3 linked regions of the Homo sapiens genome follow. The protein of the gene in region 1 purifies or fractionates together with the protein of each later gene. This does not show direct contact. Each region holds a gene or a part of one and is shown in the gene's direction. Other genes may lie near its edges.

What was found.
Region 2: the proteins of FAM163A (region 1) and CRTAP purify together in Homo sapiens (affinity purification with mass spectrometry; one large-scale study listed by BioGRID and IntAct). This does not show direct contact.
Region 3: the proteins of FAM163A (region 1) and SPAG9 purify together in Homo sapiens (affinity purification with mass spectrometry; one large-scale study listed by BioGRID and IntAct). This does not show direct contact.

The regions. Positions count from the first base shown.
Region 1 is NC_000001.11:179,749,690-179,753,343, forward strand, and holds part of FAM163A (protein FAM163A), read left to right. Parts: intron 1-3,654.
Region 2 is NC_000003.12:33,120,514-33,124,167, forward strand, and holds part of CRTAP (cartilage-associated protein isoform 1 precursor), read left to right. Parts: intron 1-3,654. UniProt on the Homo sapiens protein: Necessary for efficient 3-hydroxylation of fibrillar collagen prolyl residues.
Region 3 is NC_000017.11:50,984,751-50,988,404, reverse strand, and holds part of SPAG9 (C-Jun-amino-terminal kinase-interacting protein 4), read left to right. Parts: intron 1-1,167; coding exon 1,168-1,293; intron 1,294-2,626; coding exon 2,627-2,707; intron 2,708-3,414; coding exon 3,415-3,482; intron 3,483-3,654. UniProt on the Homo sapiens protein: The JNK-interacting protein (JIP) group of scaffold proteins selectively mediates JNK signaling by aggregating specific components of the MAPK cascade to form a functional JNK signaling module.

The DNA.
Region 1 (3,654 bases):
TCTACTAAATATACAAAAAATTAGCCAGGCATGGTGGCATGTGCCTGTAATCCCAGCTACTTGGGAGGCTGAGGCAGGAGAATCGCTTGAACCTGGGAGGTAGAGGTTGCAGTGAGCCGAGATCATGCCACTGCGCTCCAGCCTGGGCAACAGAGTGAAACTCTGTCAAAAAAATAAAAATAAAAATAACTGAAAATACAATTTTGAGTTAAATCGAAGAGCACAGGTGCCAAGTGTTAAGAAAACTTTATGAACAGAAGCTTTACATTGAGAATATTCTATCAGCTTATTTATTGTCTGTGAATTGGGGAAAGACTACCAGGATTCTGTTTTAATGCAGGAAACCCTCAATCCAGCTGGTAGAACACCAGGGCTCCACAGAAGCGCAGTTTTGGCAATCAGAAGGTTGTTGATGACTTATCAAGGACAATATCAGTAGAGTAGTGAGGCCAGAAGCTAGAGGGGGCTGGGGCTGAAAAGTGAGGATTGCATTGTCAAGATGTCAGCAAGTGTTTACTGAATGTCACTGGAGATACAATGTTGGAGGCAGGGGGATAGGAGGAGACAGTCAAAACCCTACCCTCATGAAGCTTGAAGTCATTCAGGGGAAACAAATTTGTCACAAAACAAATATAAAGTAACACTGTGATAAAAGCTATAAAGTGGAGGTGCATGGTATTCTAAGAGTGTTTATCAGAAGGCCTGGGGCCATTCAGGAAGGAGCTGGAAGTCATCCTGAGGAAGTGATGATTGAGCTAAAACCTGAAGAATGAGTAGGAGCTAAGGAGGTGAGGTGACTTTGGGAGATGGGAGAGGATATTCCTGGAATGGGCAGAGACCATGGCTAGAAAGAATATGGCATTTTGAGGCCAGTAGAATTAGGGTTCAGAGAATGAGAGGGGAAATCATACAACATGAGCGGAAGAGGTAGGAAAGGGTTAAACATACCTCATCTTATCAGCCACATTAAGGATTTTGAGGTTGATTCTAAAGCAAGGGGTAGTCACTGAAGTACTTGAGCAGTAGGATGACAGATTTTCTATTTCAAAAAGGTCACTTTGGCTGTATAATTGAACAGTTTATTTGAGGTGGTCATGAGAAGATCCAGGGAAACCTGTTAGCAGACTCCTGATGTAGTCCAGGCAAAAAGTGACAGTTGTTTAGACTGGAAAGTTTGTAGTGGTGGTGGAGAGACATAGATGTGAGAAATTCGAGATGGTAAAATGGAGAGGAAGTGATGGTTTGGATGTGAGAGTTGGGAGAGAAGGGTGTGGAGGATGAGTTCCAGACTTCCAGCTTTGTACCAGTGGTTGGTGATGCCATTTCCTAAGACAGGAAACAGTGGTAAAGAACCAGGCTTTGGGGCAAACATTGTGAGTGAGTCTCAGCCAGGAGACTTTGAACCATCTGAGTGGATGGGTCAAGAGAACAGGTGGATATACAGGCAGGAGTTCAGAGGAGAGGTCCAGGTAGGAGCTATGCCTCTGTTAGTCATCAACATCTAGGGGTAATTGAAACCATGGCATGGATGAGAGTGCCTAGGGAGAGAGGGTGGGCTTCGAAGAGAAGGCTTGGAATTAAACCTCAAGTAGAAGAGGGTGGTCCTGAAAAGGAGACAGAGAAGGATGAACCAGAGAGATCAGAGAAAAACCAAGAGGGAGAAATGTCATGAAAGCCAAGGGCAGAGCATTTCCTGAAGACGAAAAGAGAAAGCATAGGTGCTGCTGAGGAGTGAATTAAGATGAGGACCTAAAAAGGTCCATTGGCCTTAGGAAAAGAGATCATAGGTGGTTTAAGCAAGAGGTCAGTGACGTGGAGGGCAAAAGCCAGATGTAATTGGTGGAGGAGAAAATGGAAGATGAGAAATGGAGGCTGCACGTATAAATAAGTCTTTCCAGAGGTTTGCTGTGAAAGTCAGGGAGAAAGAGGGTGATTTTGTTCTGTTTTAATGACAGAATTGAGGACCTGTAAAAGCCAGTGTATTCTCTAGCAAGCAGACTCAAAAAAGAAGAAAAAGAAAAAAAAGCCAGTGTGGAGAACATAGCTACATCATACTCAATGATGAAAAACTGAAAGCTTTTCCTCTAAGATCAAGAACAAGGCCTGGAAGAAATTAAAGAAGACATAAACAAATGGAAAGACATCCTGTGTTCATAGATTGGAAGATTTAATATTTTTATAATGTCCATACTATCCAAAGTGATTGGCAGATACAATGCAATCCCTATCAAAATCCCAACAGCATTTTTCACAGAAATAAAAAGCCCTAAAATTCATATGGAACCACAAAAGACCCCAAATAGCCAAAATCTTGAAAAAGAAGGGAAAGCTAGAGGCATCATACTGCCTGATTTCAAACTATATTATAAAACTACAGTAATTAAAACAGTATGGTACTGGTATAAAGACACATAGATTAATGGAACAGAATAGAGAGTTCACAAATAAATCCACACATGATACGGTCAACTGATGTTTGACAAGAGTGCCAAGAATACGCAAAGTGGAAAGGATAGTCTCTTCAACAAATAGTGTTAGCAAAACTGGATATCCCCATACAAAAGAATAAAATTGGGCCCCAATCTTACATCATACACAAAAAATCAATTCAAAATGGATTAAAAACTTGAACATAAGAACTGAAACTGTAAAACTTTCAGAAGAAAACATAGGGGAAAGCTTCATCACATTAGTCTTGGTAATGATTTCATGGATATGAAAATCACAGGCCACAAAAGCAAAAATGGACATGTGGGATTACAAAACCATAAAAGCTTTTGTACAGCCAAAAAAAAAAAAAAAAAATCAATAGAGTGAAAAGGCAGCCTATGGGATGGGAGGAAATATTTGCAAACTGTACATCTGATCAGGGGTTAATTTCCAAAATATATAAGGAAGTCATAAAATTCAATAGCAAAACACAAGCCATTTTTAAAATGGGCTAAAGACTTTGATAGATATTTCTTCAAAGAAGATATACAAATGGACAACAGCATAGGAAAAGATGCCCCAAATCACTAATTTTCAGAGAAATGTAAATCAAAACCACAATGAGATATTATCTTACACCTGTTGGGATGGCAGTTATCAAAGTATAAAGCAATAAGAGTTGGTGAAGATGTGGAGAAACTGAAACTCTTGTGCACTGTTTGTGGGGGGGATGTAAAATGGTGCAGTCACTGTGGAGAGCAATATGGAGGTTTCTCAAAAAATTAAAAATAAAACTACCATATGATCCATCAATCTCACTACTGGGTATTTATCCAAAAGAATTAAAATAAGAATCTTGAAAATATATTAGTACTCCCATATTTCTTGCAGCATTATCCACAATAGCCAAGATGGAAACAACCATATCCACTCTATGTATACACCACATTTTTAAAAAATCCATGCATAGTGGATTTAATGTGGTGTATACATAAAGAGGAACATTATTCAGCCTTTAAAAAGAAGGAATTCCTGCTATTTGCAACACAGATGAACCTTGAAGACATTATACTAAGTAAAATAAGCCAGCCACAGAAAGACAAATACTGTATCATTCCACTTACATGAGGCATCTAAAATAGTCACCACAGAAACAGAGAGTAGACTGGTGATTGCCCAGGGCTAGGGAGAAGGGGGAGTTGGTAATCAATGGGTATAAAATTT
Region 2 (3,654 bases), on another chromosome or scaffold:
GGCAGTTAGTGGCAACCTGGACTGTTAAAGAAATGTCTCTCCATAAGCAGCTGCTGATAGCTAAGGACCTCTAGTGATTTTTGGTGACATTTGCTGAATATTATGACAATAGAAATGATTGACTTTTAGCACAAAGTGATCCATTTAATAATGATATTTTGTATGCCGTGATGATTTTAAAAGCCATGTTCCCTTTAAATGCTACATTTTAGAAATATGGTCATTTAATTATTTAGTTTTAAGAGGGTAGATTAAAGACATATCTTGGAAATCATCTAAAATGACCAGGAACACAAGAAATAGAAACATAAATCTCCAGTTTTGATGAAATGAGAAGGCATATATTTTTATACACACTTGCACACAAACGCACCCTAAATATATTAAGGTAGAAAATGAAGACGAGTTAGGAAGGCTGATGTGACAGAGTAGAGGACACTTAAATCTGCGCATCTACGAAGAAGAGTTTTGATGAGAATTAGTCGTAAGAACAACAATAAGAAAGAACGATCTCGCCCTTTTGAGCACTCACTATTGTCAAGGTCTTCTGGAACTCAGGCACTGGGGGCCTGGGTTTCAAGCAAGGGCAGGGCATTGTTGAAAATGGGAATTTGGCTGGGCACAGTGGCTCATGCCTGTAATCCCAGCACTTTGGGAGGCCGAGGCGGATGGATCACCTGAGGTCAGGAGTTTGAGACCAGCCTGGCCAATATGGTGAAACCCCGTCTCTACTAAAAATACAAAAATTAGCTGGGCGTGGTGACTCAGCATGTCTGTAAACCCAGCTACTCGAGAGGCTGAGGCAGGAGAATCACTTCATCCCGGGAGACAGAGGTTGCAATGAGCTGAGATTGCGCCACTGCACTCCAGCCTGGGCGACAGAGCGAGACTCTGTCTCAAAAAAAATGAAAGAAAATGGGGATATGTGGAAAATATCCACTAGAAGTTATAGTTCCCAAGGCCTGACCACAGGGTTTTCTGTAGAGTGATCAGATCTCAGGCTCACTTTTTGACTGCTAGGGAAAATGTATGTGTGGAAGTCTCTTTTTGGGGGTATCTGTCAGTTTTCCAGGGAAGACTTCACCAGCCTTCTGCAGGGCTGGTGGGGTGCGCATACTCCTCTGCTGGTGTCTGAGAACCAGTGTGGGGAGAGGGACAGGGTCACCCAGGTGAGTAGGAATACTTCACCTGCTTCCTGATTTTAGCCTCATGCCTCCACTTGGCCTCTGCTACGTCTGGTCCCTGACTCCTCAGCCTTTATGGGTAAAGTCTCTAGAATAAACTGCCACTCTCTGGTGAAGAGTGGCTTTGGGAGATATGATCTCTTGGGTGGGTGGGTAGGTGCTGGGAGCGGACCCAGGACCCCAACAGCCTGTTCAAACTTGCAGCCCTGCTTCTAGCTCCATGCCTTACCCCAGCCTCCCGTGGTCCCTCATGCCTGCGCATGCCAATGGGACATATAGCTTGCTTCCCCTCTGGCCCCTCCTTTGTGACTATTTCACTTCCTGCCTTTCCAAAAGTTGTTGAAATCTCATCTGCTGCTTGCTCCCTTCCCATTCTCCCATAAAAGCAATTTATGCCTTTCATAGTCTTCACTGTTGTTTTCATAGGGTTTGGGGAACGAAGCCGAGTGCGTGTGGTCAGTGCCCTGGGCTTATCTGGAATTCAGCTAGTCCTGTTGGCCCTCACTGGAGCCCTTTTGGGGTGGCTGTGCTGCCCTCCTGTGTGATCAGGGGCCTCCTCTTTCTGCTTGGTCCTTCTTGCTGCTGCTGCTGCCCCGCTGCTTCTGCAGAACCAGCTGTCTGGAGTTGGCTACTTATTGACCCATTCTTCAGGAAAGGCTCCTTCAGTTCTCAGCCTGTCTTATTTCCAGGGCATGTGGCCTGCCCAGGAGGTTTAAGAAAATCCACCCTCGGCCAGGCGCGGTCCTCATGCCTGTAATCCCAGCACTTTGGGAGGCCAAGGTGGGTGGATCACGAGGTCAGGAGTTCAAGACCAGCTGGGGCAAGATGGTGAAACCCTGTCTCTACTAAAAATACAAAAAAATTAGCCAGGCGTGGTGGCAGGCACCTGTAATCCTAGCTACTCGGGAGACTGAGGCAGAGAGAATTGCCTGAACCCAGGAGTTGGAGGTTGCAGTGAGCTGAGATTGCACCACTGCATTCGAGCCTGGGCAACAGAGCAAGACTCTGTCTCAAAAAAAAAAAAAAAAAAAAAAAGAAGAAGAAAATCCACTGTCTTTACCTGAGGCCTTAAGCTTGGTGAAAATTCTAGGTCTAAGGGGTGCCCTCAGATACCACCATTCCAGAGCAGCTGAGAACTCCAAATGGAGGGTCCCATGCTTATTCAGGGCCTGTCCTGGCCTCTGCAAGTTAGCAGGTTTTGTGTGTATCCAGGATCTCTACTTATTTCTTGGAGACCAAGCTACTTCCTTGGTCCTAGTTTATTTCTCTCTCTCTTTTTTTTTTGAGATGAAGTCTCGCCCTGTTGCCCAGGCTGCAGTGCAACGGCACGATCTTGGCTTACTGCAACCTCCACCTCCTGGGTTCAAATGATTCTCCTGCCTCAGCCTCCTGTTATTTCTCTTCTAATCGAGTCTAATCAACAATTAGCAGAAAGTCCTTGAAGTTTCCACTATCTGGCATGTGGTTGCCCTTCCTAGTAACTAGTGCTGATGCATGGTGGCACTTCTGTTTAACTGCATTGTCGGAGGAAGTGGGGTGACAGACACCTGCTGATATGGTTTGGATCTGTGTCTCCACCTAAATCTCATGTCCAGTTGTAATCCCCAGGGTTGGAGGTGGGGCCTGGTGGGAGGTGATTGGATCATGGGAGTGGATCCTTTATTAATGGTTTAGCACCATCCTCTCTGTGCCATTCTCATGATAGTGAGTGAGTTATCATGAGACCTAGTTGTTTAAAAGTGTGTAACACCTCCCCGCTCTCTTCCTTCTTCTCTGGCCATGTGAAGTGCCGGCTCCCTGTTTGCCTTCTGCCGTGATTGTAAGTTTCCTGAGGCCTCCCCAGAAGCAGAAGCTGCTATGCTTCCTGTATAGCCTGCAGAACCATGAACCAATTAAACCTCTTTTATTTATAAATTACCCAGTCTCGGTTTTTTTTTTTTTTTTTTTTTTTTGACAGAGTCTCGCTCTGTCACCCAGGCTGGAGTACAGTGGCACAATCTCAGCTTACTGCCACCTCCGCCTCCTAGGTTCAAGTGATTCTTGTGCCTCAGCCTCGTGAGTAGCTGGGACTACAAGCATGTGACTACACCTGGTAATTTCTATATTTTTAGTACAGATGGGGTTTCCCTATATTGGCCATGCTAGAGGTATTTCTTTATAGCAATGTGAGAACAGACTAATATACCTGCTCTCAAACTTACATTTTTCTTTTCGTTCCATTTTAAAAACCAGTTTTATTGAGGTACTATTTATATACAATATATTTATCAATTTTAAGTGTATAATGCAGTAAGTTTTGACAAATACATCCAGTCCTGTAACTGCCATCATAGTTACGACATAGAATATTTTCATCACCCCTGAACAATTTCCTCTTGTCCTTTTGTAGTCAAGTTTTTGCTGTAACCCCTGACTTCTGGCAGCCACTGATCTGATCTCTGTCATAGTTTTCCCATTTTCCTTAATTCAG
Region 3 (3,654 bases), on another chromosome or scaffold:
TTAGTGTATAAAGTAAGAAAGATTAATTAATAACCCATTTATGCCTAGTGGTCCATTATTGGAATGCTAAGCTTGTGGGAGTTATTCATATCCTACTGCTCAAGGTCATCGCTAAGGTCTGATTTTTTACAAAAAAAATTTGCAACCTCCGGCATAAATGGGTTAATATTTAATTCTTTTTTTTTTTTGGAGATGGAATCTCACCCTGTCACCCAGGCTGGAGTGCAGCAGTGCAATCTCAGCTCACTGCAACCTCCGCCTTCCAGGTTCAAGCGATTCTCCTGCCTCAGCCTCCCAGGTAGCTGGGATTGAAGGCATGTGCTGCCACACCCAGCTAATTTTTGTATTTTTAGTAGAGATGGGGTTTTATCATGTTGGCTAGGCTGGTCTTGAACTCCTGGCCTCAAGAAATCCACCCACCTCACCCTCCCAAAGTGCTGGGATTATAGGCGTGAGCCACCGCACCTGGCCTGAATTATTAATTTAAGAATAAGTCATGTTTGAATTTGATAGCCTGGTTATATATCTTTTACTAAATATGCCCTGACAATTCAAAGGAAAGGTTTTGTGATAGAATATTAAACATATTTCAGTTTATTAATTTATTTTAGGTCATTCTTTATATTTCTCCCTACTATTTGTATGTGTGTATCCCTCCCTTCTCTCTCACTTGAGAAGAAACTATGACAAAACCCAAAATAAGAGACAGCCATAGTAATTGTCTGAATATTAACTGCTGTATTTCATTACCATGTCTTATTATCTTTTCTGCTCCTTGGGCTTCCTAGTTTGTTAATGTTATTTCTGGTACAATTGTTGAAATATGTGATGTAAGCTTTTGACTTTGGCTTTTCTGGAATTTTGGTGGTTTCTTTTTTTTTTTTTGACTAAAAGTTGAAGCCAGGTGTGATAGTGTGTGTGCCTCTAGTCCCTGTTATTCAGGAGGCTGAAGTGGAAAGATCACTTGAGCCTGAGAGGTCAAGGCTGCAGTGAGCCCTGATTGTGCCACTGTACTCCAGCCTGGGTGACAGAGTGATACCCTATCTCTAAAAAATAAATAAATAATAAACAAATGAACAAACTTAAATATAGAAGGATTCAGTCCCTGAAAACTATAACGATAGTTAAGTATACTCAGATTTCTTTCCTTTTGCCCTCCCTTTCCAGCAATGACTCAGATGCATATAAAGATCAAATATCAGTACTGCCAAATGAACAAGACTTGGTGAGAGAAGAAGCCCAGAAAATGAGTAGTCTTTTACCAACTATGTGGCTTGGAGCTCAAAATGGCTGGTAGGTGTCAATGCTTTTAACATTAGAATATGTTGTTTTACTTTTGCTTTTGAAATCAGAAGATAAGTAAAATATGGTAAACAAATACAAAAAGTGTGGATTAATGCAAAGAATTTTATATATACACACAATTTGATGTTATGTTGCAACTACCACATAAACTGGACTTGCACTGGTTCTGAATAGTAAGCCATATGTTTCTTTGTCACAGAATGTTCCCTTTCTATAATATTCTTGGAAGAAGAGGTATGTAAAATTTTAAAATCGAGGTGCTCCAGAAATAGAAGATCCTGAACAGCACAAAGACAGAGAATATTTAATTTATGTAGGCTAGAATGTGGGCAGGAAAACAGGGATTAAACCAACATTTTGGCTGCAGGAAGGCCCAATCCCAACTTTTAGTGAATTTTTTACTAAGATAGGTAAAACAAATCACAATCTGCAAAGTCAGATGATGATGACTAATATTATATGGTTTGTTCACTTTCCGGTTGTGTGGAGAGTTTTACAAAATTGTGCATTTACAAAGGTTAAGCAAGATTACTGTTGAGCATCTCTAATCCAAAATTTAAAACTCTTTGACCACTGTTATGATGCTGGCAGGTAATGCTCATTGGAGCATTTTGGATTTTTGAATTAGGAATACTCAACTGTTATGTATGATGTAAACATTCTAAAATCTGAAAAAGTCAGAAATCCCAAGCATTTCAAATAAGGGTTACTCAACCTGTAGTATGTCTTTTTCATATGAGTCCAATACTATAAAGTGAAGAGTTGGCAAACTTAGTGTAACTCTCTTCCAGTAGAGCATTATGGGCATTGTAGTTTGAATTTCATATAAATCTCCCCTGTCGTAAAATACCCTTGATTTCCCCCCCACACACACTTTTAAAAATGTAAAAAGTATTCTTAGCTTGCAGGCTGGATTAAAACAGGTGGCAGACTGGATCTGGCCTGTAGGCCATAGTTTGCCACTCCCTATGTGGGCCACTCTGTCATCCAAAAGTTATAGATCAGTGTAGTAGAGAGGTAAGGCAATTCAAAAAAAGAGTTTTGCCCAAGGACTAAGTGTGTGAACCTGACTGTGCATTGCACTAGTTCTTGCTTTTCAGTCTTCATATGTTTTTCTTTGCTCAGCAGCCTATTTCTTTACCTTAGGCCTACCCTCACTCTCATTTTTCTTTTCTGACCATTGCACAAAAGCAGCAGCACCTTTTCCTAAAATTTGTATGTTACTCTTCTTTCCTTCTGAATGAACTTCGCGATCATTGTTAGATATATGCAATGTCTTGATGTTCTCTATGCCTTACCAGTGTTGACTTTGTTCTTACAGTTTGTATGTCCATTCATCTGTAGCCCAGTGGAGGAAATGTCTCCATTCCATTAAACTTAAAGATTCGATTCTCAGTATTGTGTAAGTTTTATTTTGGAAATTCTTCTTGTTAAAACTATGCATTTTGGTATAAACTAGATTTTAAGACTTTGAAAGCTAATACATGTTTCACGACTAAATTAGTATCCAATTTGTTTGTTTTTTTAACCCTTTTTATGGAACTAGAGAAGTTAAGTGAGAATGAAACTGTATAATAGAAAACGAAGTAGAAAGGATAACTTGCTTGATTGAGTCCTCACCATACTGCGATTTATTTAGCACTGCAGGAAATAACCAATACCTATTAAGTTATGTTTATTTTAGAATATTCTTTATGGCTTGTAAATATGTTGATTGGGGCATTGATTACTAGTTCTTTTCTATGTGTTCACTGTAAAAAAATCAGACAGTTTATCTCTGAGCCTACAGGGCTGACTCTGTTGGTTCCACTCAAGGTGCATGTCTCTGGTCTTTAGAGTTTGTGTTGATTGTCTGTGATGAGAGGAGAACCTTGGGCCAGAAAGTGAAATAACTGAGATACCATTCATACTGTTTATTTAGTTCAGCTGACATTTTTTCATAGCAGGACATCCACAGTGAAGAAAGTGGTGTGTTCATTTATATTCAGGTGTCAGCTCCTTAACTCATCACAGATTGGCCCTTTGTGAGGCCTTGAACTAGTTCAGTAGCATGTGGTCCCTTCTGTATTCCTGAATGGAGAGTTCTGAACTCCCCTTTCCTGTTTGCAGACACGTGAAGGGAATCGTGTTAGTAGCCCTGGCTGACGGCACCCTTGCAATCTTTCACAGAGGAGTGGGTGAGTGGTGATGTGTGTATAACATGGACACTAATTTGTTGCTTTGCAAAGCATTTTTAAGTAGATTGGTTTATGTTTTAAAGAAATGATACTCAGTTTAAAGAATAAATACTAACAATACACAACATCAGTAAATATATTAGTGCGTGCATGGAGGTATACATTAACAGAT